Regions from separate parts of the Homo sapiens genome. Here all the other regions are linked to region 2. The links come from fine-mapping of genetic effects on gene expression. A gene starts in region 2. Each other region holds a variant in brackets. All regions are shown on one strand. Distances are from middle to middle.

Region 1 (8,563 bases), 120 kb after region 2:
TAATGGTCACTTTTAAGTTTTAAAGAAGTGGGTTTTTATTGTTGTTGTTGGTGGTGGTGGTTTTGTTTGTTTTTGAGATGGAGTCTCGCTCTGTTGCCCAGGCTGGAGTGCAGTCATGAAATCTCAACTCACTGCAATCTCTGCCTTCTGCATTCAAGTGATTCTCCTGCCTGAGCCTCCCAAATAGCTGGGTCAACAAGTGTTTGCCACCATGCCCAGCTAATTTTTGTATTTTTAGTAGATACAGGGTTTGGCCATGTTGGTCTCGAACTCCTGCCTCACATGATCCACCTAGCCTCGGCCTCCCAGAGTGCTGGGATTGCCGGCATGAGCAACAGCGACCAGCCTTAAAGATGACCCTACCTTTATTTAAAATGACCCTGCTTGTATTTCCTCCCCTGAATGCCTTAAAGTCCCTGACTTATTTGAAAACTTAGTATTTCGAAACAGTTTCAGAAAAAATTAAAGCCTTAGTGGTTGGTCACACTAAATGGGACCGTCAAAGCTCCTACTGCTCACAAATATTGTTAAAATGGAATAACACGCACTGCTAAAGGGAATTAAAGTCACTCCTATCTTGAATGAACCCTCGACATTTTAAGTTCTGTGTCCTCTGCATAGAATCTTTGTTCTTTGTCTCTCCCTTGTGGCCATTTAGAAAACCTTTCAGCTCCTGATCACCAGTTGAAACAGTGAAATTGTTCCCATTGTGGCAAACACAGTCTCTTGCCGTGGTTTTAATTTAAAAGAGATATTTATGTTACCCTTCCCATGAAGCAATTGACTGGTCAATATGCTCTCTACTTGTGTTATCCATAAAAATTTCCCAAACCAATTTACTTTTAGTGTCAGAAGATGCAACCCAACAATATTCTTTTTTTAATGAAATACACTGTGCTCATAAAAAATGTATCTAAAAGCATATGTACAATTTAAATAATAATTAGAAAGGGAACAATCAGATCAGCAACAGATTAAGAAATAGAATGTTGCCAATAATTGAAGTCCTCCATATGTTCCTCCAAGTTCATTGTCCCTCTCCTACCACCAGATGGAACACTAATCTGACTTCTGTGATCATTCCTTTTGCTCCTTTAGTTTTACTACCTATGTGCACAAACTTAAACTACATAGTTTAGTTTTAACTTGTTTTAAACTGTATAAGAATACAAGAAAGTTATATTATATGTAATCTTTTATGACTTGCTTCTTTAGTGCAATACTGTGACATCGTCTGTGTTGATTTGTGTAGCTCTACTTCATTTTTCTTTCTGCCTAATACTCAGTTATATAACTATAATACAATCAGTTAATCTATTTTGCTGCTGATTGGTTTTTGATTGTTTTTATTTGGGGCCTATCTGATACTACAAACATCCTTTACATGTATATCTGTGCGAGAGTTTCTCTGGCATACCCTAGGAAAGGAATTGCTGTATCGTAGAATATGCATAGCTTCAACCTTCTTAGATAAAACCAAGCTGTAGATAAAGACAAGTCAAAGATAAATCATATCACTTAGAGTATATGAGTTTCCATTGCTCTAGATCCTTAGGAACACTTGATATTATGAAATACTTTTTTTTCCAAAGTGATGAGTGCATAGTAATATATTATTGTGGTTTTAATTTGCATTTTCCTCATTACTAATGATGTTAAGCAGCTTTGCATATATTAACTAAACATTTGATTTTTGCTTTTATTTTGAAGTGCTCATTCCATTTTCTTGTGTATTTTTCTATCGGATTTTCTGTATGTCACAATGTTTTAGATATATAAACTTGGTCAGTTACATGTGTGGCCAACAGCTTTTCCCACTCTGGGCCAATTTTCACTCTTCTTGTGGTGTATTTTAATAAACACAACTTCTTAATTTTAAAGTAGTCAAAGTTATTAATCTTTTTTATGATTAATACTATTTGTACCATGAGTAAAAAAAATTGTTTACCCAAATTCCACAAAGAGATTTTTCTATATTATCTTCAAAGAGTTGTATAAATTTTTAAGTTTAAATGAGTTTTGGGCATAGTGAACTAGGAATACAACTGTAGTTTTTTAAAATATGGATTCCTAATTATAGCACTGTTCATTGAAAGGTTCACTCTTTCTGCCTCATCTACGGGGCCAAAAGTCTGGATCTGTGTGGATCTCTTTGCAGGCTCTCTATTCTTTTCTATTTTTTTTCTTCATCTCTATGCCAATGCTATACTATTGTAATATCTTCATAATAAATCTTGCTAATTATTCTACCTTAGTTTTTGTCAAGAACACACAATTATTCTTGGTTGTTTGTGCTTCCATTTAAATTTTTAAACCAGCTTGTTGCATTCCACTAAAACAAGTGAGTAAACAACTACAATAATGAAAAACCCTGTTGAGATTTTGATTCTAAGTAATTTTTTAAGAATATGCATCAATTAGTGGAGACTTGAATTTTTTTTTTTTTTTGAGGTGGAGTCTCGCTCTGTCGCCCAGGCTGGAGTGCAGTGGCACGATCTTGGCTCACTGCAACCTCCACCTCCTGGGTTCAAGTGATTCTCCTGCCTCAGCCTCCCGAGTAGCTGGGACTACAGGTACCCACCACCATGCCCAGCTAATTTTTGTATTTTTAGTATAGACAAGGTTTCACCATATTGGCCAGGCTGGTCTTCAACTCCTGACCTTGTGATCCACCCACCTCGGCCTCCCAAAGTGTTGGGATTACAGGCATGAGCCACTGTGCCCGGCCGAGAATTGATTTTTTAAAAATTAGTTTTCCAGAGGGGAGGAGGCAAAGCAAGATAGCGGAATAGAAGGCTCCATTGATAGTCTGCCCTGCCACCACAAGGACACCAGGTTAACAACTATCTACACAGAAAAAATACCTTCATACGAACCAAAAATCCGGTGAGCCCTCATAGTACCTGGTTTTAACTTCATATGGCTGAAACAAGCACTGAAGAGATAGAAAAAAAACAGTCCTAAATCAAGTATGCCACCCCTCCTGCACCCTTCAGCAATCATGGCGTGGTGCAGAGAGCGTCTCTAGGTGCTGGGGAAGGAAGAATACAGCAATTGTGAGGCATTGAACTCAGTGCTGTCTTGTTAGAGCAGAAAGGAAAACCAGACCAAACTCAGCTGACACCCACCCACAGAGGGAGCATTTAAACCAGGCCTAGCCAGAGGAGAATCACTGATTCCAACAGTTAGAACTTGAGTGCCTGCAAACTTCACCACCGAGGGCTATAACACTCTGTATCTCCAAGTAAACTTGAAAGGCAGTCTGGGCCATAAAGACTGAAACTCTTAGGTGAGTCCTGGTGCTGAACTAGGCCCAGAGACAGTGAACTGGGACTGCATGTGGCGTACAGAAACACTAGCTGGGGCAGCTAAGGGAGTGCTGGCTTCAACCCTCCCATAAACCCAGGCTGCACAACTTATGGCTCGGAAAGACCTCTCTTTCTTCCAGTTGAAGGTAGGAAAAGGGAGAGTGGGAAAGACTTTGTGATGCACCTAGGATACCAGCTCAGCTACAACAAAACAGGGCAACAGTCAGAGTCACGAGGTCCCCACTGCAGGCCCTAGCTTCCAGATGACATTTCTACACACACCCTGGGCCAGAAGGGAACCTGCTGCCTTGAAAGAAAGGACCCAGTCCTGGCAGCATTTATCGCCTGCTAACTGAAGAGCCCTTGGGCCCTGAATAACCAGCAGCAATACCCAAGTACTACACCAAGGGCCTTGGGTGAGCCTTTGAGGCTTGCTGGCTTCAGGTGAGACTCAGGATATTACTAGCTGCGGTGGCTCTGGGGCAAAACTTCTGCTTGAGAAAAGCAGAGGAAAAAGTAAAGGGAACTTTGTTTTGCACCTTAGGTACCAGCATGGCCACAGAAGGATAAAGAACCAGTCAGGCTCT[C/T]GGGGTCCCCAATTCTAGGACTTGACTCTTGGACAGCATTTCTGGACCTGCCCTGGGCCAGAGGAGCACCCACTGCCCTAACATGGGAGTCCCAGGACAGGTAGCATTTATGACAAGCTGACTTAAGAGATCTTGGGCTTTAAGGGAACTTTGGTGGTAGTCTGGCAGTACTCCTTGTGGCCTGGGTGGTGGTGGCTATGGGGTGAGGCTCCTCTGCCTTTGGAAAGGGGAGGCAAGAGTGGGAAGGACTGCATCTAGTGGTTAGAGTGCCAGTTCAGCTGCAATACAAGAGAGCACCAGGTAGACATCTAAGGGTTTTTACTCTAGTCCCTGACTCCCAGATGGCATTCTGGACCCACTTCTGGGGCTTAGGGGAGCTTGCTGCCCTGAAGGGAAGGGCATAGGCCTGATTGGCTTTGGCATTTACTGATTGTAGAGTCCCAAGGCCTTGAGGTAATGTAGGCAGTAGCCAGGGAGTGGTTACAGCAGACCTTGGGTGAGACCCAGTAAGCACTGGGCTGGCTTCAGGTCTAACCCAGAACAGTCATAGTGGTGGTGGCCAAAGGGGTGCTTGTGCCACTCCGCCCCCAGCTTTAGGTGGCACAGAACAGAGAGAGAGAAATTCTGTACATTTGGGAGAAAGTAAGAAAAGAGAATAAGAATTTCTGCCTGGTAATCTAGAGAATTCTCCTGGATCTTGTCCAAGACCATCAAGGTGGTACTTGTACAAGTCTGCAAGAACCATGATGTTACTGGGTTTGAGATGCCCCTCTAAAGTAGATACAGTTTGGATCACAAGACTCAAGTCCTTTCAGGCATCTGGAAAGCCTTCCCAAAAAGGACAGCTACAAGCAAACCCAGACATTGAAGACGACAATAAATGCCTAACTCTTCAATGCCCAGACAATGAAGAACATCCACTAGCATCAACACCATCCAGGAAAACATGACCTCACCAAACAAACTAAATAAGGCACCCAGGGCCAATTCTGGAGAAACAGAGATACGTAAACTTTCAAACACAGAAATCAAGATAGCTGTGTTGAGAAAACTCAAAGAAATTCAAGATAACACAGAGAAAGAATTCAGAATTCTATCAGATAAATTTAACAAAGAGATTGAAATAACTAAAAAGAATCAAGCAGAAATTCTGGAGCTGAGAAATGCAATTGACATACTGAAGAATGCATCAGGGTCTTTTAATAGCAGAATTGAGCAAGCAGAATAAAGAGCTAATAAACTTGAAGTCAGGTTATCTTGAAAAAACAAGACCCACTCATCTGTTGCCTACAAGAAACACACTTCACCTATAAAGACACACATAGACTGAAAATAAGGGGATGGAAAAAGATATTCTATGCCAATGGAAGCCAAAAAAAGAGAAGAATTCACTATACTTATATCAGACAAAATAGATTTTAAGACAAAAACTATAAGAAGGGACAAAGAAGGACACTATATAATAACGGAGGGCTCGATTCAGCAAGAGGATGTAACAATTTTAAATATGTATGCACCCAACACTGGAGCACCCAGATATATAAAGCAAATATTATTAGAGCTAAAGAGAGAGATATGCCCCAGTGTAGTAATAGCCGGAGACTTCAACACCCTACTTTTAGCATTGGACAGATCTTCCAGACAGAAATCAACAAAAAAAAATCAGACTTAATCTGCACTATAGACCAAATGAACCTATTTACCCAGTAGTCATTTAGGAGGAGATTGTTCAGTTTCCATGTAGTAGTGTGGTTTTGAGTGAGTTTCTTAATCCTGAGTTCTAATTTGATTGTCCTGTGGTCTGAGAGACTGTTTGTTATGATTTCTATTCTTTTGCATTTGCTGAGGAGTGTTTTACTTCCAATTATGTGGTCAATTTTAGAATAAGTGCAATGTGGTGCTGAGAAGAATATATATTCTGTTGATTTGGGGTAGACAGTTCTGTAGATGTCTATTTGGTCCAGAGCTGAGTTCAAGTCCTGAATATCCTTGTTAATTTTCTGTCTTGTTGATCTGTTTAATATCCACAGTAGGGTGTTAAAGTCTCCCACTATTATTGTGTGGGTGTCTAAGTCTCTTTGTAGGTGTCTGAGAACTTGCTTTATGAATCTGGGTGCTCCTGTATTGGTGTATGTATATTTAGGATAGTTAGCTCTTCTTGTTGCATTGATCTTTTTACCATTATGTAATGCCCATCTTTGGTTCTTTTGACCTTTGTTGGTTTACAGTCTGTTTTATCAGAGACTAGGATTGCAATCCCTGCTTCTTTTTTGCTTTCCTTTTTTCTGGGTAGCTTCCTCCATCCCTTTATTTTGAGCCTATGTGTGTCTTTGCAAGTGAGATGGGTCTCCTGAATACAGCATACCACTGGGTCTTGACTCTATCCAATTTGTCAGTCTGTGTCTTTTAATTGAGGTATTTAGCTCATTTACATTTAAGGTTAATATTGTTATGTATGAATTTGATCAAGTCATTATGATGTTAGCTGGTTATTTTGCCTGCTAGTTGATGCAGTTTCTTCATAGTGTTGGTGGTCTTTACAATTTGGTATGTTTTTGCAGTGGCTGGTACTGGTTGTTCCTTTCTATGTTTAGTGCTTCCTTCTGAAGCTCTTATAAGGCAGGCCTGGTGCTGACAAAATCTCTCAGCATTTGCTTCTCTGTAAAGGATTTTACTTCTCCTTGATGTATGAAGCTTAGTTTGGCTGCATATGAAATTCTGGGCTGAAAATTCTTTTCTTTAAGAATGTTGAATATTGGCCCTCACTCTCTTCTGGCTTGTAGAGTTTCTGCCAAGAGATCCACTGTTAGTCTGATGGGTTTCCCTTTGTAGGTAACCTGACATTTCTCTCTGTCTGCCCTTAACATTTTTTCCTTCATTTCAACCTTGGTGAATCTGACAATTCTGTGTCTTGGGGTTGCTCTTCTCAAAGAGTATCTTTGTGGTGTTCTCTGTATTTCCTGAATTTGAATGTTGGCCTGTCTTGCTACGTTAGAGAAGTTCTCCTGGATAATATCCTGAAGAGTGTTTTCCAACTTGGTTCCATTCTTTGTGTCACTCTCAGGTAAACCAATCAAACATAGATTTGGTCTTTTCACATAGTCCCATATTTCTTGGATGCTTTGTCCATTCCTTTTCATTCATTTTTCTCTAATCTTGTCTTCTGCCTTTATCTCATTGAGTTGATCTTCAATCTCTGATATCCTTTCTTCCACTTGATCGATTCAGCTACTGATACTTGTGTATGCTTCACGAAGTTCTCGTGCTGTGTTTTTCAGCTCCATCAGGTCATTTATGTTCTTCTCAAACTGATTATTCTAGTTAGCAATTCATCTAGCCTTTTTTCAAGGTTCTTAGCTTCCTTGCATTGTGTTGGAACATGATCCTTTATCTCAGAGGAGTTTGTTACTACCCACCTTCTGAAGCCTACTTCTCTCAATTCATCAAACTCATTCTCCATTGAGTTTTGTTCCCTTGCTGGTGAGGAGTTGTGATCCTTTGGAGGAGAACAGGCCTTCTGGTTTTTGGAATTTTCAGCCTTTTTGTGCTAGTTTCTCCCCATCTTCGTGGATTTATTTACCTTTGGTCTTTGATGTTGGGACCTTCGGATGAGGTCTCTGAGTGGACATCCTTTTGTTGATGTTGATTCTATTTTTTTCGGTCTGTTAGTTTTCCTTCTAACAATCAGGCCTCTCTGCTGCAGGTCTGCTGGAGTTTGCTGCAGGACCCTCTTTGCCTGGGTATCACCAGCGGAGGCTGCAGAACAGCAAAGATTGCTGCCTGTTCCTTCCTCTGGAAGCTTTGTCACAGAAAGGCACCTGCCAGATGCCAGCCAGAGCTCTTTTGTATGAGGTATCTGTTGGCCCCTACTGGGAGGTGTCTCCCAATCAGGAGACATAGAGGTCAGGGACCCACTTGAGAAGGCAGTCTGATCCTTAGCAGAGCGTGAAGTTCAAGGCTGTGCTGGGAGGTCCGCTGCTCTCTTCAGAGCCATCAAGCAGGGATGTTTAAGTCTGCTGATGCTGCGCCCACAGCCACCCCTCCTTCCAGGTGCTCTATCTCAGGGAGACGGGGTTTTTTATCTATAAGCCCCTGGCTGGGGCTGCTGCTTTTTTTTTTTTTTTCCCAGAGATGCCCTGCCCAGAAAGGAGGCAGTCTGTCCACAGTGGCCTTACTGAGCTGTGATGGGCTCCACCCGGTTCAATCTTCAGAGCGGCTTTGTTTACACTGTGAGCGTAAAACCGCCTACTCAAGCCTCAGCAATGGCGGATGAACCTCCCGCGACCAAGCTTGAGCGTCCCAGGTAGAGCTCAGACTGCTGTGCTGGCAGCGAGAATTTCAAGCCAGTGGATCTTAGCTTGCTGGGCTCTGTGGGGGTGAGACCCACTGAGCCAGACCACTTGACACCCTGGCTTCAGCTCCCTTTCCAGGGGAGTGAAAAGTTCTGTCTCACTGGTGTTCCAGGTTCCACTGAGTTATGGGAAAAAAAAAAAAAATTCCTGCAGCGAGTTTGGTGTCTGCCCAAATGGCTGCCCAGTTTTGTGCTTGAAACCCAGGGCCTTGGTGGCATAGGAACTGGAGGGAATCTCCCAATCTGTGGGTTGTGAAGACCGTGGGAAAAGTGCAGTATCTGGGCCAGAGTGCACCATTTGTCACAGTGCAGTCCCT
Region 2 (8,563 bases):
TTCTGGGTCCTCCAAGAAGCAAAAGCCAAGACAGGATCAGATATGCGAGAGATTTATTAAAGGAAATGCCTGTGAGAGAAAATGTCGAGGGAGCCAGAGAAGGCCGGGAGAGCCACCATTAGACTGCAATGTAGGTTTAACCCTTGGGAAGGAGACAGCAAAGGAAAGACAGGCTTCCACTGAAGTACAGGTCTCAGAGAGTTTCTTTCAGGACCATGAGGAGTCCTTGAGCCAAACTCACCTATCGGGAGAGTCCCATGTCTTCCAGGAATGGGCCTGCCTGAGGATCCTCACTACATTTGATCACCAGCCTGGAGAAGCCCCTGGCAGCATGGCCTTGGCGCCAAGGATTCCAGAGCACACCAGCTGGGGCCATCTGGCAATTTCATACCCACCCCCTGCAGTTGGACATCTGAGAGGAACATTTTCATCACCACCATAGTACTCATTCTTAAGGCAGCTGTAGACACCTGTTCTGGATCATCTTAAATAGTGACTTAGTGAACTTCCCCAGTGACTCATACCAGTAAATGTCCATAGGTGGATTCATCCATCTCTGTTCCTAAATTAGAGTGTGGCTAATTCTTCCCAGATTCTTAAGGTCCTTAAAAGAAAGAATATATGGTACCACATTAAGTTAAGCTCATGACTGAAAATAATTTAAGAAGGAGGCCAGTGACTATTAATAGTAGCCCACAATTAGAAGGCATATGTATGAGTAACCCCTGCATCTGGCTTAGTGATAAACTGCAATTACTGCAGCAATTGCTCTCTATTTGACAAAAAATGGACTCATGTACCACTGGTAAAGATAATATTTCTGATTTGTGTTTGCCTCTTGTATATGCTGGACAATGAAGTATAATATTGTTTATGTATATTTATTACGTATAACCCAGAAAGAGTCTGTCATGGAAGCACAAGAAGTATGAGTTAGCCTGCCTGATTTAAGCTAATACAGATCTATCCTTGGAAATGGAGATGAATTCATTGTCCCCTGAATCTCATAAAGGAGAGGTGGATTATCTGATTTAAAAAAAAAATGGATTTGGTTAGAAAGGACAATAGGGGTAGTGTAGGGAATAGATGTTGAGGAGGCAACCACAGTGTTTACTAAATGGTGCTTTTAAAAAATCTTCCTCCACACTGTAGAATGGAATCCAAACTCCCTAGTATGGCAGCCAAAGTCCCTCTAAACCGAGCCCAAACTTCTCTTTAGAGCTAGCACTATGCAAGTTCTGCTAACAAGTTTCAGTCACTATGAACATTTTGTCTTTCTCAAATTAAGCCTTTCACATTCATATCTCTGTGCTTTGGAATCTTATACAGCCTCACATTGTAATACCTTCCCCTTTATCTCCCCGCAAATATACATTTTTCTAAGCTGAGTTTCTGTGTCACCTTCTGTGCACATTCTTCTCTAATCCTTTGATCAGAAATAATTGCTGCTTCTTTTATGTGCCCTTGCACCTGATTCGTAGCCAATTTTGGTATAGTTGTTTTCTTGTCTTTTTTCCTCTCTAGATTTACTGACCATAATAGCATTTCTATCTCCCAGAGTGCCTCACAGAATAAGTGTCCAGTAAGGATATGTTGACTTTCACTGAATGGCGTCTGTTTTCTCCCAAGTAAAAGGAAAGATCTGGGGCCTGCACCTTTGCATAAGCAGTAACCATTTCGAAGCTTATCCAACCCACCTTATTTTCGTTGTTGTTGTTGTTGTTCCGTTTTCTTTTATTTTAGGTTTCTAGCTGCCTGAACTCACGGTTTTTAGTTTCTGTCTCTAGTGAAAGGGGAAAAGAGGGATGAGGAAGGGGTTTTACTCGCCTAACCAAAAACAGAAACTAAGAACCCATGACTGTATTCTCTCTCGGACACCCTTTAGTCAGAACGTAAATGCTGGTTACCATCTTTAATCTTTTTTTTCTTCTTTTTTTTTTTTTTTTTTTTTTTTAGGAACCGTTATGCCGTTCCTATGTTGTTAGGTTCCATTCCTCAGGCAGCTCCTGCTCCCAAATGGCAGGTACTTTCTGCTCTCTGACCCTGGAAAAATCACCTTTGTTTAAAGCCCCTTTCTTCTATTAGAGCAACACCAAAATACTCTCAGGAGTTAATTTAGAACAATAGTAGTACTTTACCATGAGGAGTGAGGTTGATGTAGGTGGAGACTGGTTAAAACCTAAGAGTACAAACACACAAAAGATACCGAGCCAGCTTTTTGTTGTTGTTGTTGAGACGGAGTCTCGCTCTGTCGCCCAGGCTGGAGGGCAGTGGCATGATCTCTGCTCACTGCAACATCCGCCTCCCGGGTTCAAGCAATTCTCCTGCCTCAGCCTCCCGAGTAGCTGGGATTACAGGCCTGTGCCACCACGCCCGGCTAATTTTTGTATTTTTAGGAGAGACGGGGTTTCTCCATGTTGGCCAGGCTGGTCTTGAACTCCTGACCTCAGGTGATCCACCCACCTCGGCCTCCCAAAGTGCTGGGATTACAGGAGTGAGCCCCCGCACCCGGGCCTGAATCAGCTTTTAACGTGGAACTTTACTGACCCACTTTCTTTGATGTCCATCTCCCACTTCAGCTCCCAAAGGTCAGTTGTTCCCTGATATGAAGCCTAAGAACTCAACGTACTTCACCGCACGTTGGATTTCTAGCCGGAATTATTCCAAATTCTGGCAAGTCTTATCCACAATTTCTTTTCTGTGTAAGTTTCTCCTTGCTCTTTATTTCTGAAACCTGAATGTATTTGGTCCTCTGCCAATCAGATTTCCACTAGTCCTCCGAAGAGTCAGTTATTAACTCACTAATTCGACAGATATTTTTGGACGTTCACTATATCCTTATTTATTTAGCATATATTTAGTTATTTATTAAGAAACTAAAGCCTATTCTATGTCAGAAATGAAAATAGGCAATGAGGACTCAATGGTGGGCAAAATGCAGACAGACTACTTTTTTCCCCTCATTCTAGCACAGTCATCACTTTCCTAGGTAAGACGTTCCTAAACTCCAGACTACACCAAATCCTCCTCCTGACCACACCCTTCCACCTTGATTTTCACCTTCTGACCTCTCTTGCGTAGAAATTCGAGCACCAGCCACTCTATAGCTTTAGCTTAATTTCTCCAGCCATGCACGGACGAATCTGTGTTAGTGATGCCACAGGCACGTTTCCCTCCCAGCAAGAATATAACTTGCTGGGCAGCATTTCTGTGGATACTTTGAGAGAAAAATGCCCTAGTTGAGCACCCCGCACCATGGCCATAAGCATCCACCGGGCTCGAAGTGCATGGCCCGCAGCTGACCACTAGGGGGCAGCCCTCCACGCAGAGGCTCGAGCGACGGAGGCGACGCGGCGGCTACCGGCTCTGCTGAGCCCACCCCAAGATCGGAGGGAAGGGAGCCTGATTCCACGCGGGGCCTCCCCCGTGGCATACGTTGTTGTTAGGGAACTATTCGCCCCAAATATGGTTTATTGGAGACTTAGGGTTTGCTTTTCTTATCAAGTGCGACAGCAAACTGGCTGGGTCCCCTCTCGCATCCAAGAACCCGCAGAGACCCTGAGGGAGCCGGTTTGGGGCCCCATGCAGGCCAAAGCATCCCTCCGGGAAGGCGGGGTCGCTCACCTGGTAGGCGCCCCGAGAGCCCGCAGCACGGCCCGAGGTGGGGTCCACCGATGGAACGGGAGACCACGGGCGTGGCTCAGGGAGCGGTAGCCGCGCCCCGGGCCCGCCTCAGGGTCGGCTCCGCCTCACCCCAGCCTGTGCCCCGCCTCCGGGACAGCCCAGTTTCCGAGACCTCCTAGCCTCCAAGACAGCCCCGCCGCCAGAACAGCCTCTCCTCCAGGACCGGCCAGCCTACGAGAGAGCCCCGCCTACGGTACAACCCGCCTCCGGGACCGCAGGACTCCACCTCCGAGACAGCTCAGTCCCCAGGACAGTCCCGCCTCCGAGACGGCCCCGCCTCCAGGACGGCCCCTACCTCCGAGACCGCCCCGCCTCCGGGACCGCCCCGCCCCGCCTCGCCTCCGACCCGTCCCCCGCGCGCCACTGCAGAGCCTGTCCGTCAGTCCCTAGGTATCCGCACTGCTCAGGGGTGAGTTTTCCAATCCCAGCGGGTCCTGGGGTGGGGGCGGTAGCTGAGCACCTAGGGCACTGGGGGTCGCCGCAAAGTGCTGGAGGCCCCAGACCATACCCGGCGTCAGGGGGTGTCCCTCCCTTCTTAGGTCTAGGTCTTTGGTTTCATTTCGTTTTGTTAGTCTGGTGCTATTTGCAGTTTGTCTCAAAACACGTTTCTCCCTCCTATTTGAACTTGTAAATTACGAATTTGACAAAGATGTGCATGGTGTGTGCGTGCACGAGGGCACATTTCGTTGCGGAATGCTGGGTCAGCTTTCCGGGACATATTACTCATCTGAGGTTTTTTGTCTGTTTTTGTTTATCCTGTCAAACTGGTACTGCCCCAGAAGTGAAAGACGTCGCTTGTCTTCTGGGAGGTAGCTAGCACGATCTTGAGCTCAGGCTTCCGGATCTCTCTCGGCTGCTTTTTTCCACTGGTAACTTCTGAGGCTGAGATCAGGTACCCGCATTCTCAATGCTCTGCCGAGTATTGGCTCTCTTTTGTGAATTTCTTTCCCGCGAGCAGTATTAAGAAAAAGGTGGCGGATAGGAAGGGAAGAGGGGAAGAGATGGAATTCTACAGGAAATGCAGGGCATGCTCAGAATGCCAACCTTTCCGAGCTTGGAGAGATTTAGTGGAAGAAAGTAGCAGGAAAAACGTCCAGTAATCACTGGCATGCCAGACCCTGGAGAAGCCAGGCTGAGGCGCTCTGCAAGTTTCACCTTAGAGAGAGTGGACGAAATGTAACGGTTCTTGTTAGAGTTCTTGTAGAGGACGATTGTGGATGAGAATACATCCTGGGGACTAAAACCATATTGGTTTAGTCTGGAATGATTGCCAACTAAAGGGACTGATGTTTGAGAGAGATGGTGAGAGATTAACCAAATGAGGTGGTTGACTGCATATAGAAGCAGGAGGGAGAGAGGAAGGAGGCACTTGTGGCTCAAGGGCTTGGTGTGTGTTTTAGTTTAGATTCTGCCCTAAAGCAAAGCCTTATGCAAGGGCTTACCTGCAGGTAATTTTTTGGGGGTAAGTGAGACCAAAAAGCCCAAATGAGGAAGTGGAGAGAATGAGACAAGGAAAAAAGGGAAAGCCAGGAGGAGCATGTGGCTGAGGGTCTTCCACATGGCGCTCCTTTCCTCCGGGTGCCTTCCGAGGACCTCTGATGGGCACCTCGGGAAAGCCACGGGGCACTCTTCTGTGAATCCCCGCTCTACTGGGCGAAGCTCACCCTAGTGTCAACTCACCGCTACTTCAGGGCTGCCTTGTGCACCTGCAGAGGTGAGAAGCCATCAGAGCACAGAGGAAAGTCCCTTACAGTGGGCTCGTCAGAGACGCGCAAAGGGAGGCGGCACAGGCAGCCAGGGGACTACTGCACTACTGCAATCTGCAACGCTGCCCTCGGCAACCCGGGAAACTTAAAAGGACAGCAAAGGGACAGACACTCTCGTTTATTCCGTGCTCACTGTATGTGTACCAACCCCAGACAAGGCATTTTTAGACATATTCTTTGCTTTATTTTATTTTACTTTACTTTATTTTATTTTATTTTATTTTATTTTATTTTTTGAGGCAGAGTCTTGTTCTCTCGCACAGGCTAGAGTCCACTGGTGCGATATCGGCTCACTGCAACCTCCGCCCCCCACCGTCAGGGTTCAAGAAATTCTCATGACTCAGCCTCCCCAAGTGGCTGGGATTACAGGTGCACGCCACCATGCCCAGCTATTTTTTGTAGATTTAGTAGAGACAGGTTTCGCCATGTTGGCCAGGCTGGTCTCAAACTCCTGAGCTCAGGTGATCCACCGGCCTCGGCCTCCTAAAGTGCTGGGATTACAGACATAAGCCACTGCGCCTGGCCTATCCATATTCCTTTAATCTTCAAAAACAATCTTCCCATGGCTGTATTATTCTCTTTTTGTAGATGGGGAAACTGAGACTGAAGTCATTTATCCAAGAGGGGCTGCTTAAAGGGACAAATAGTCTCAGTGTTAGGCACAGCCAATTTTAAAAGACCTCCGGAAACTGCATAATGCTACCAAATAGAGGAGGGTCCTCTCCATTAGGGCAGATTTGATAAATTAGGGGGCACTTTCCAACTTAGCAAAGCTGTCAGAAGAAAGGCATGTTTTGACAGGTCTATGACCTTTCTGTTCAAAAAAATCAAGCACTGTGTCCACTCAGGCACACGAACTTAACTATCACCTTGATTTACTGGCCCTGCAGGATCTAGCCCGTCCCTCCCTCCTCCTGGGGTCCTGCTCCTCCCTGCTCCTGGCTCTCAGCCACCCCAAAGTGGTCTCGTTGCTGGAATGCCCTTTGCTCACTGCATTTCAGGTTTCAGCTTCAATGCCACTTTGTCAGAGTCCTTTCCTATCACCCAATCTAAAGTAGTCTTCCAGTTCCTCCATGTCACATCATTGTGTTTTATTTTCATCATAGTGATTGTTGCATTTTATTTATCTGTTTATCTACCTATTTATTCATTATCTTTCTCCTTCTAAAATATTCAAATCACGAAAAGGGAAACCTTATCTGTTTTGTTTCTTGCTGTACTCCCAGTGCTAGAACAGTGCTTGGCCCACAATGGGGAATCCAGTAAAATTTGGAGGTGAATGCATTTAGTTGTTTGCTTTTTTCACCTGTTCCTTCATCTGTTCTGACCAGCAGTGCTTATCAGTATCTCTTAAATACATGAAAGTCTTTGCTTCCCCCTGCAGCAGCTGATAGAACCATGGCGACCATTGCTGCTGCTGCGTTTGAGGCCCTCATGGATGGAGTGACATGCTGGGATGTCCCCAGAGGCCCCATCCCCAGTGAACTCCTTCTTATTGGAGAAGCCGCCTTCCCCGTGATGGTGAATGACAAGGGCCAGGTGCTCATTGCTGCCTCCTCCTACGGCCGAGGCCGCCTCGTGGTTGTGTCCCATGAGGGCTACCTGTCGCATGCTGGCTTGGCTTCATTTCTCCTCAATGCAGTGAGCTGGCTCTGTCCCTGTCCTGGGGCTCCCGTGGGAGTGCGTCCATCCCTGGCACCTCTAGTAAACATCCTACAGGATGCTGGGCTTGAGGCACAGGTCAAGCCAGAACCAGGAGAGCCCCTAGGGGTTTACTGTATCAATGCCTACAATGACACCTTGACTGCAACGCTGATCCAGTTTGTGAAACATGGAGGGGGCTTGTTAATCGGGGGCCAGGCCTGGTACTGGGCCAGCCAGCACGGCCCTGACAAGGTGCTCTCCAGGTTCCCTGGGAACAAGGTGACAAGTGTAGCCGGAGTGTACTTCACTGACACCTATGGGGACAGAGACCGGTTCAAGGTCTCTAAGAAGGTGCCCAAGATCCCACTCCATGTCAGGTGAGTGTTTGTTCCCCTCTTAGGGAGTCTGACTCAGGATAAACAATAGAGTTGGTTCCCCTCTTCAACAAGCTTCCATTGCAATACAGGTGATTTTCCACTCAGTTTGGAACCACCACAAATCAAAAGCAGGATGATTAAAATGCACCAAGACACAAGAGAGGCTGGGCCCTCACTGCCACTCCCTCCTGTGGCCAAAGCTGAATAGAAAAGCTTGTCTTACCACTTTATCTCCATGTCTAGTAAATAGAACCTAGAGAGTGCTCATCAATACCTCTTAAATGCATGAAAGAATATTTGTTTGTTTGTGTGAGCACCGATTGTTGATCATGCTGCATTCTGGACAATGGGGGTCTAGCAGAGATCGAGGCAGGCAAGTCATGCCATCATGAGGTTTGTATTCCAGGGGAGAGATAGGTATTAAGGAAACTAATATATATGTGCTCTATCAGGTATTGCTAAGATCCATGAAAGATGATAATATAAGTGGATAGCATGACAACAGGAAGGCTGATGGAGGCTATTTTATTTAAGATGTTCAGGGAAGTCCTATCAGTCAGACCAAGTTGGATTGGTCAGGATTTGTTGGCGTTGCTAGCAGAAGGGATTTAGTATGGGGAATTGACTATACCCATGATAGAGGAGCTGAAAATACACACAGGGGACAGCAAGTAACCCAGAGATCAGCAACAGCAGAACCAGCAGAGGGAGATGGTGGTATTACTGAAGTCCAGGTGCTGCGGCCACCTGGTAGAAGCTGGAGCCATGCTATGCCTTCCCAGCAGGAGCTGGAACCACAGATGAAAGGTCTGTCTGCTAGAAGCTGGAGTCTCAGAGAAGACACTGTGGTTACCAGAAATACAGCCTGAAGAGAGAAGCAAGCACTTAAACTCCTTCCTTCTTCCTTCCTGATTTCAGTCTTCTACCTCTCTCTCCCATGGGCTGAACCCACCAGGATCCAGGGAACAGGAGAACCAAAGAAATGCAGTTTTCTGCAACACGGAGGATGACCAAGATGAAAGGGGAATAGAGATGAGTGCAAACAAGCTCATGGCCGGCTTGGAAGGCTGGTCTGGTAGGTAGCACTTGAAA
Region 3 (8,563 bases), 230 kb after region 2:
ATCAATAACTTAAGCTACTCAAGCTTTCCTATCAAAGAAATGCTTCTTTATAGCACTGAAATGCACAAGAATCCAAATGCATAGGAAGCATTTCTTAGTTGTCTTGATTGTGAGGTAAGTTGTTTTTTTGTGTAGTTAGAAGAAAGATCTCTGAGAAGTTGAAGATCACCTTCTGCCCACTCCCTATTGAAGACTGACTGCAATGATGTGGGTCAAAGAAAGAAATCATTTTAAGAGTAGAAGCCAAGCAGGAGTACAAAGGCTTTGTAAGGAGTAGAGAACAGAGGAGGGAAATAGTCTTGAAAGAAGGGATAGAGTCTGCTACTTTTGTTGGCAAAAAAGAGTCAACATCTAAGGCCTAGTTACCTGTTGGCCTGTTAGGTACATATATTAGGTGAGGTTTTGACCTTGGGTGAGGACATTGCTTTAAGCACTAAATAGATCAGATTAATCCCGTGAAGAGGAGATAGGAAGTGTTTCTGATAAATACTGCTTTGAAGATTGGCTGCAAGGCCAATACTCATCAGAGAGCTCCAGTTGACTATGGGAGTTAGACAACAGAGGAAAGTAAACTCATGACATATTTCAATTTCTCTTTACAGAAATTCAGACTCAGTGGTGTGGCAGAAGATAAAATAATTTGGGTTATTTCTGTGATAACATGGGCAATCTGGAAACTACTCCCATTTGTGAGGGTAAATCTCTATTATGATACATGGAAAATAGGACAGATGCTAATTCAGGTAAGAAAAGGTCTTTGTATTATACAAATATTTACCTTCAGACAGAAATGTTAATGAAGATGGAGAAGGAACAGTTACCAAGAAACTAGGGATAGTAGGACACAAAAAACCTGGTAACCTGGTAGTGAGTATGAACCAGTCTGGTGCCTTGCCTCCAGAGGAGCAGCAACTGAGCAGAGCTACTGGACAACCAGCCCTGCACTTCCCTAGAGCACAGACCAGCTCACTATGCAGCCACCAAGAGATAAGCACCGAAGGAGAACCTACCAGCCATGGATCCTCAGAAAACAGACCAGCTAAGTGCCCAGCCTTCAGGGGACAAGCAGCTGAGTGGGCATACCAGCCACACAAACTTCTGCAGCCAAGGCCACTGAGGTACTTGCAGGCACCACTGACATTAACTACAGCTAAAGAAGCTGCATGGAGACTACACTACTGCATCCACCCAGAACAAAAACAAATGTACCTTACCCAACCAACATGCTAGGACACATCTGCAGGTGTAAGTCTTTTCCGCTGAAAGTTATGCTACCAAGTTAGAAAAGGTGATTATTCCATCAGATGCACAGATGCCAGTGCAGGGATACAAGAAACATAAAAAAGCAAGGGAACATGACACCACCAAAGAAACACAATAATTCTCTAGTAACTGACCCCAATAAAAAAATAAAAATTTATGAATTGCCTGAAAAGGAATTCAAGATAGTGAGCCTAAGGAAACTTGGTGAGACATGAAAGAACACAAACGGATCATTCAACAATCGGGAAAAACAGTTCATGATCTGAATGAGAAATTCAACAAAGAGAGAGATATCATAAAAAAGAACAAAATAGAAATCTTGGGGCCAAGAAATTCAATGAATGAAATAAAAAAACGCAATTGAGAGCTTCAACAGCAAAATAGATCAAACAGAAGAATTTTTGAACTTGAAAACAGGCCTTTTGAAATAGTCCAGTCAGAGGTAAAGAAAAAAAAAAAGGAATGAAGAAGCCTATGGCATTTATGGGACACCATAAGTGAACAAATGTTTGCATTTTGGCAACTTAAGAAGAAGAGATGAAGAAAGGCAAAGAAAGCTTATTTAACAAAGTAATAGTTGAAAACTTCCCAAGTCTTGGGGAGATATGGACATCCAGATCCATGAAGTTCAAAGGATCCCACAAAGATTCAACTCAAAGAGGTCCTCTCTGAGGCATATAACCAAACTGTCAAAAGTCAAAGACAAAGAAAAAAATACTAAAAGCAGCATGAGAAAAACATCAAGTCACATATAAGGGAATTGCCATTGGACTATTAGCAGATTTCCCAGCAGCAACCTTGCAGGCCAGGAGAGAATGGGATGATATATTTAAAATACTAGAAGAAAAAAAGCTGCTAGCCTAGAATACTATACCAGCAAATCTTTGCTTCAGAAATGAAGGAGAAATAGTCTTTCCCAGATCAGCAAAAGTTGAGGGAACTCATTACCACTGGACCAGACTTACAAGAAATGCTTGAGTATTTCTATTGGAAAAAAAAGTTTTCATGATAATTGCTACCATAAAAAAACATGAAGTATAAATCTCACTGCTGGAGATAAATGCATTATCAAATTCATAATGCTTCATTACTGCAATGGTGATATGTAATGTTTCAAACCTCTAGTATGAAGGTTAAAGGCCAAAACAGCTGGGTGCTGTGGCATGTGCTTGTAGTCCCAGTTATTTAGGAGGCTGAAATGGAAGGCTCATTTGAGCCCAGGGGTTTGAGTCCAACCTGGGCAACATAATGAGACCCCATTTAAAAAATAATAATAATTAAAAAAATGCAGCTCTGTGGGATGCCAAAAAGTGAAAATTGTAATAATGATTATAGCAATGATAAGTTGTTAAGGAATAAACAATATATAAAGATGTATATTAAAGCAACAAAATTATAAATTTGGGTGCAGAATGAAAGTCTAGAGTATTGGTATGCAATGAAAGTTAACTTGTTATCAGCTTAAAATAGTCTATTATAAGTATGAGAGATTTTTAATGTAACCCCAATACTAATCACAAAGAAAAAATTACAACAGATATACAAATGAGAAAGAGAAAGGAATCAAAGCTTAACACAACAAATACCCTAATCAAGCCACAGAGATAAACATGAGAGAGGAAGAAAGGAACAAAGGATAAACAAAACAACCAGAAAATAATGAACAAAATGGCAGAAGTCCTTACCTATCAATAATAACTTTGAATGTAAATGAAATAAATTCCCAATTAAAACATACGCCGTGGCTGAATGGATTAAATTAAAAAAAAAAAAAAACAAGATTCAGCAACATGCTGCCTACCAGATAGGCACTTCACCTATAAGGCCACACATAGACTGAAGTGAAAGAAGAGAAAATGAAATTCTGTGAAAATGGAAACCAAAACAAAGCAGGGGTAGTAATACTTACATCAGACAAAATAGACTTTAAGTAAAAAACTGTCAAAAGAGAAAAGAAGGTCATTATATAAAGAAAGATAAAGAAATCAGTTCAGCAGAAGGTTAGGACAGTTGTCAGTATATGAGCACACAACACCAGAACACCCAATATATAAAGTAAATATATAAAGCAAATATTATGAGATCTAAAGGGAGAGAAAAATTAAAATAAAATAAAAAAGGACTTTAGCACCCTCTTTCAGCAATGGATGGATCATCTAGATAGAAAATCAACAAAGAATTATCAGATTTAAATTACATTCTAGACCAAATAGCCCCAGCAGATATTTATAAAACATTCCCCTCAATAACTACTGAATGTACATTTTGCTCAACAGCACATGGAACTTTTCTCCACGATAGAATATATGTTAGTCCACAAAACATATCTCAAGCAATCAAAAAAATCAAAATCTTATCAAGTATCTTCTCTTACCACAATGCAATAAAAACTAGAAATGAATACCAAGAGGAACTATGGAACATATACGAATATGTGAAAACTAAAAACAAGTTTTTACAAAACCAGGGCATCAATAAAGAAATTAAAAAGAAAATTTAAAAATTCCTTGAGACAAATAAAAGGAAACATAATGTACCAAGACCTATGGGATACAGCAAAAGCTATTCTAAGAGGGAGTTTATAGCAATAGATGCCTACATCAAAAAAGTATAAGAATCTTTTATAAAAACTTTATGTGGCACCTCAAGGAATGAGAAAAACGAGGGCCAGCTGAACCCTAAACTACTAGAAGAGAAGACTGATAAAGATCAAGCAGAAATAAGTGAAATAGAGCCTGAAAATAATATAAAAATCAGTAGAACAAAAAGTTGGTCCTTTGAAAGATAAACAAATGTTTTAGCTAGACTAACAAAAAAGAGAAGACTCAAATAAATATAATCAGAGCTAAAAAAGGAGATGTCACAGAAATACAAAGGATCATAGAAGACTTTTATGAGCAATTATATGCCAATAAACTGGAAAACCTAAAAGAAATAAATAAATTCCTGGACACATGCAACCTACCAAA[G/A]TTGAACTACTATGAAGAAATAAAATACCTACACAGGCCAATAATGTGTAACAAGAATGAATCAGTAATAATAAGTCTCCCGTCAAAGAAAAGCCCAGGAACTGATGACTTTACTGCTAAGTTCTACCAAACATGTAAATAATAATATCACTTCTTTTCAAACTATTCTAAAAAGTTGAAGAGGTGCAAATTCTTCCACACTCATTCTATGAGGCCAACATTATCAAAACCAGACAAGGATAACTTGATAAAAAGAAAACTACAGGCCAATCTCCTTTATCAACATAGATGCAAAAATCTTTAACAAAATATAAGTGAAACAAATTCAACAGCATATTGAAAAAATAATTCACCACAATCAAGTGAGATTCATCCCAGGGATGCAAGGATGGTTTAACATATGTAAATCACAAATGTGATACATCACATTAACAGAATGAAGGACAAAAATGACATAATCATTTTAATAGACAAAGAAAAAAATTTGATAAAATTTAACATCCCTTCATGATAAAAATTCTCAGCAAATGAGATGTAGAAGTAATATACCTCAACACAATAAAGGCCATAAATGAGAAGCTCATAGATAACATCATACTGAAGAAGTTGAAAGCTATTCCTCTATGATCTGCAATAAGACAAGGATGCCGCATTTATCACTTTTGTTGAACATACTACTGGAAATCCAAGCCAGAGCAATTAGGCAAGAGAAATGAAAGGCATCCAAATAGGAAAGGGGGAAGTCAAATTGTCCTTGTTTGCAGATGACATTATCTTATATATAGAAAATCCTAAAGATTCCACAAAAAACTGTTAGAATAAATAAATTCAATAAAGTTGCAGGATACAAACTCAACATGCAAAAATCAGTAGTGTTTCTATATGCCAGTAGCAAGCTACCTAAAAAAAGATATCAAGAAAGCAATCCACTGACAATAGCTATAAAATAAATACCCAGGAATATAGTTAACAAAGGAGGTGAAACATCTTGAGTGGAAACTATAGAATATGGATAAAATAAATTGAAGAGGACACAAATAAATAGAAAGATAATAATGAATTGCAAAAATTAATATTGTCAAAATGTCCATATTATCCAAAGCAATTTACTAATTCAATGCAATCCCTATTCTTCACAGAAATAGAAAAAAAAATCCTAAAACTTCTATGGAACCACAAAAGACCCCAAATAGCCAAAGTAATCCTTAGCAAAAATAAAGCTCGAGGCATCACACTACCTGACTTTAAAATATACTATAAAGCTATAGTAACCAAATCAACATGGTACTGGTATAAAAATAGACACATAGATAACTGAAACAGAATACAGAACAGAAATAAATCCATGCACTTACAGCCAACTGATTTTCAACAAAAGTGTCAGCAACATGCATTAGGAAAAGGAGAGGCTTTTCAATAGATGGCACTGGGAAAACTGAATATCCACATGTAGAAGAATAAAATTAGACCCCTGTCTCTTACCATATGTAAAAATTAGTTCAAAATTGATTAAAAACTTTAATGTAAGACCTGAAACTGTAAGCATCCTAGAAGAAAACATGGGAGAAACAATTCATGACATTGGTCTCGGCAAGAATTTTTTGAATAAGACCTCAAAAGCATACAACAAAAGCAAATATAGAGAAATGGTACTATATTAAACTAAAATGCTTCTGTACAGCAAAGGAAACAGATTGAAGTTAACTTAAGGAATGGGAGAAAACATATGCAAACTATGCATCTGACAAGGGGTTAATGCCTAGAATATATAGAAAAATAACTCAATAGCAGAAAAATAAATAATTCCATTTAAAGATGGGCAAAATGCCTAAATAGACATTTCTCTAAAGAAGACATACTAATGCTTAGCATCACTAATCATCAGGGAAATGCAAATAAAACCATAATGACATATCACCTCAGTCCAGTTAGAATGGCTATTATCAAAAAGACAAAAAATAACAAATGTTGGGGTAGATGTGAAGAAAGAGGAAGTCTCATATGCTGTTGTAAATTAGTCCAGCAATGATGGAAAACAGAATGAAGGTTCCTAAAAAAGTTAAAAAATAGAAGTACCATATGATCCAGAATCCCACTACTGAGTATATATCCAAAGGAAATAAAATCAGTTATGTGGAAGAGATATCTGCATTCCCATGTTTATTGCAGCATTATTCACAGTAGTTGCATGGAATCAACCTAAGTGTCCATCAGTGGATGAATGGATAAAGAAAATGTGGTGTATATATACAATGGAAGACTATTCAACCATAAAAAGAAATTTTGTCATTTGTGGCAACGTAATTGGGCCCAGAGGACATTATGTTAAGTAAAATAAGCCAGGCATGTAAAGACGAATACTGTACAATCTCACACAAAAGTGGATTCTATAATTTAAAAAGTTGATTTAATAGCAGCAGAGCGTAGAATAGTGGTTGCCAGAGGCTTGGGAGGGTAGTGGGGCAGGGGAGATGGGGATAGACTGGTCAACAGGTACAAAGGTTCAGTTAGATAGGAATAAGTTCTGGTGTTCTATTGCACAGTAGGGTGACTATAGTTAACAATATTATATTGTATATTTCAAAATAGCTAGAAGAGAGGATTTTGAATGTTCTTACCACAAAGGGATGATAAATGTTTGAGGTGAAAAATATGCTAAATACCCTGATTTGATCATCACAAAATATATACGTGTATCAAAACATCACACTATACCCTATAAATATGTACAATTATTATGAGTCAATTAAAAGTAAAATAAAACTTAAAAAAAAGAAACTTGGTGGCCTAAAGATTTCCACTAGATAGTTGGCTGTTTCTCCCAAGTACAGGGTTAAAAATAGCTGAAAAGAGGTTACGATGTTCAGGGAAAGTAGCAAAGAGTACACCAGGGAGACTGACAGATGGACAGAAATGCTCTGACACTAGCTGGCCTCATATAAGACTAAAACTTATTAAAGCTGTCAAATGAAGGGGAGTGCAGGAAAGCTTAGGGCCCTGGATGGTCCTTCTTGAAATGTTTCCCAGAACAGGGGCAAACATCAAAGGCCTTCTTGGAAAAGAATGAAGTTGGCAAACTTCATTCAATGCTGTATTGGACATTCCTTCATTCAACAAATATTAAAACCCACTAGATGGTAAGCTTACTCAGCAGACATGGTGAGATCAGCAGTAGGCTTTGTTTTTTGTGGAACACCTATACAAACAAAAGAATGTGAAGTGTGTTTTAATAACTGGAAGATACTTAATCTGGTTGGAAATAGAGACTTGTGGGGAGATATCATGAGCCTGGACACATCAAGTGGACCTAGATACTTGAGGACCTTGAAAACCATTTTAAAGGCTTTAGCTGGGTTGCATCTTAATCAATGTGAAGTCACTGGAAGATTTTTATTTGGGTTTATTAAAAATTTTTTCAAAGTAATACATGCACAAGGTAAAAAATTAAATAGTACAGAAGGACTTAAAATGAAAAACACAGTTTCCCATCCCACCCTTTTTAAATCTAAATCCCATTCCCTAGAGGTAATGCTTTTAACAATATTTATTTTAGATCGTCTGGTAACTTTCTAACTTTAAATAATATGTTTGAGCAATAATTTCTTGACTTACTGACTTTACAACATCTTTAATAATTCCCCATTACAAAAGATAAGGATTTAACTTACACTATCGCCACTTTCCTTTGTCCATCTCTCTCCAAATGTCTGATAGTTACATCACTTTTTAATACATCTATTGGTTTGATTTTATAGCTTTGAACAATACACTAATCCTCTAGTTCTTGTTCCATTAACTGAAGATCTTTTCATCCCCACTTTGAATATATAAGTATCTCTACCTTTGATTCCACTTCTCTTCCTCTAATTCTCAATCTCTTTCTGCTTTCTTTCCCTTTGTCAGCATTAATTACTTTCAACTTCAGTTCTGAATAAAAAATGAAACCTTTCACACTTTGTTAATAGGCTGATCTGAACATTGAATACTAATAAATGATATCCACATTATTTTGGCTATTTAAATACTTCTTACTGGGAGCCTAGTATAAGCTAGGATATTTTCTTCCCTACACACCCAATATCATCATGCCTGTGCCATAGAAAAGGAAATGTACCTATCAAGCCTCTTCTTATTCTTCATGAATAACTCAAAATCATGCCTCATTTTATTTTGCTCTATAATTGGACCTGAATTTTTTGACATATTGTTGATTTGTCTTTCTTTTTTCTTGACTAAATAATCTTCTCAAGCATCCCAGCTCTTCAATGATACTATCTATGGCACTGAATGCACATTCTTCCCAGAAAGCCCGAGACAGTATGCTCTCATCT

Direction of the effects. Positions count from the first base shown, and alleles are read on the strand shown. Sizes are in standard deviations (SD) of each study's normalised expression.
For the expression in thyroid of the gene that starts at base 4,047 in region 2, C is the low allele of the variant in region 1 and T is the other (moderate effect, 0.65 SD a copy in GTEx).
As copies of A replace G in region 3, the expression in fibroblasts of the gene that starts at base 4,047 in region 2 goes down (small effect, 0.17 SD a copy in GTEx).

What was found. PIP is the estimated chance that this variant, and not a neighbour inherited with it, causes the effect. A credible set is the group of variants that fine-mapping cannot tell apart.
Region 1: its variant is the best candidate, but not a certain one, in a credible set for the expression of TCAF2 in thyroid (GTEx, PIP 0.55).
Region 3: its variant is the best candidate, but not a certain one, in a credible set for the expression of TCAF2 in fibroblasts (GTEx, PIP 0.73).

What each region holds. Positions count from the first base shown.
Region 1 is chr7:143,736,580-143,745,142 of GRCh38, forward strand. No RefSeq gene overlaps it. Among named protein-coding and RNA genes, the nearest start is that of CTAGE6, 17 kb to the right of the region's middle. The variant C/T (reference allele first, on the strand shown) is at 3,896.
Region 2 is chr7:143,616,928-143,625,490 of GRCh38, forward strand. It overlaps TCAF2 (TRPM8 channel associated factor 2), which reads left to right and starts at 4,047. Exons shown (of 8, transcript NM_001363538.2): 1 at 4,047-4,093. It overlaps LOC101928466 (a long non-coding RNA gene), which reads right to left and starts at 1,782. Exons shown (of 4, transcript XR_007060573.1): 1 at 242-1,782. RefSeq lists a silencer at 3,952-4,111.
Region 3 is chr7:143,843,760-143,852,322 of GRCh38, forward strand. It overlaps LOC112267988 (a long non-coding RNA gene), which reads left to right. Exons shown (of 3, transcript XR_007060571.1): 2 at 603-743. TCAF1 (TRPM8 channel associated factor 1) reads right to left here. Exons shown (of 9, transcript NM_014719.3): 9 at 7,616-8,563. Among named protein-coding and RNA genes, the nearest start is that of TCAF1, 54 kb to the right of the region's middle. The variant G/A (reference allele first, on the strand shown) is at 4,233.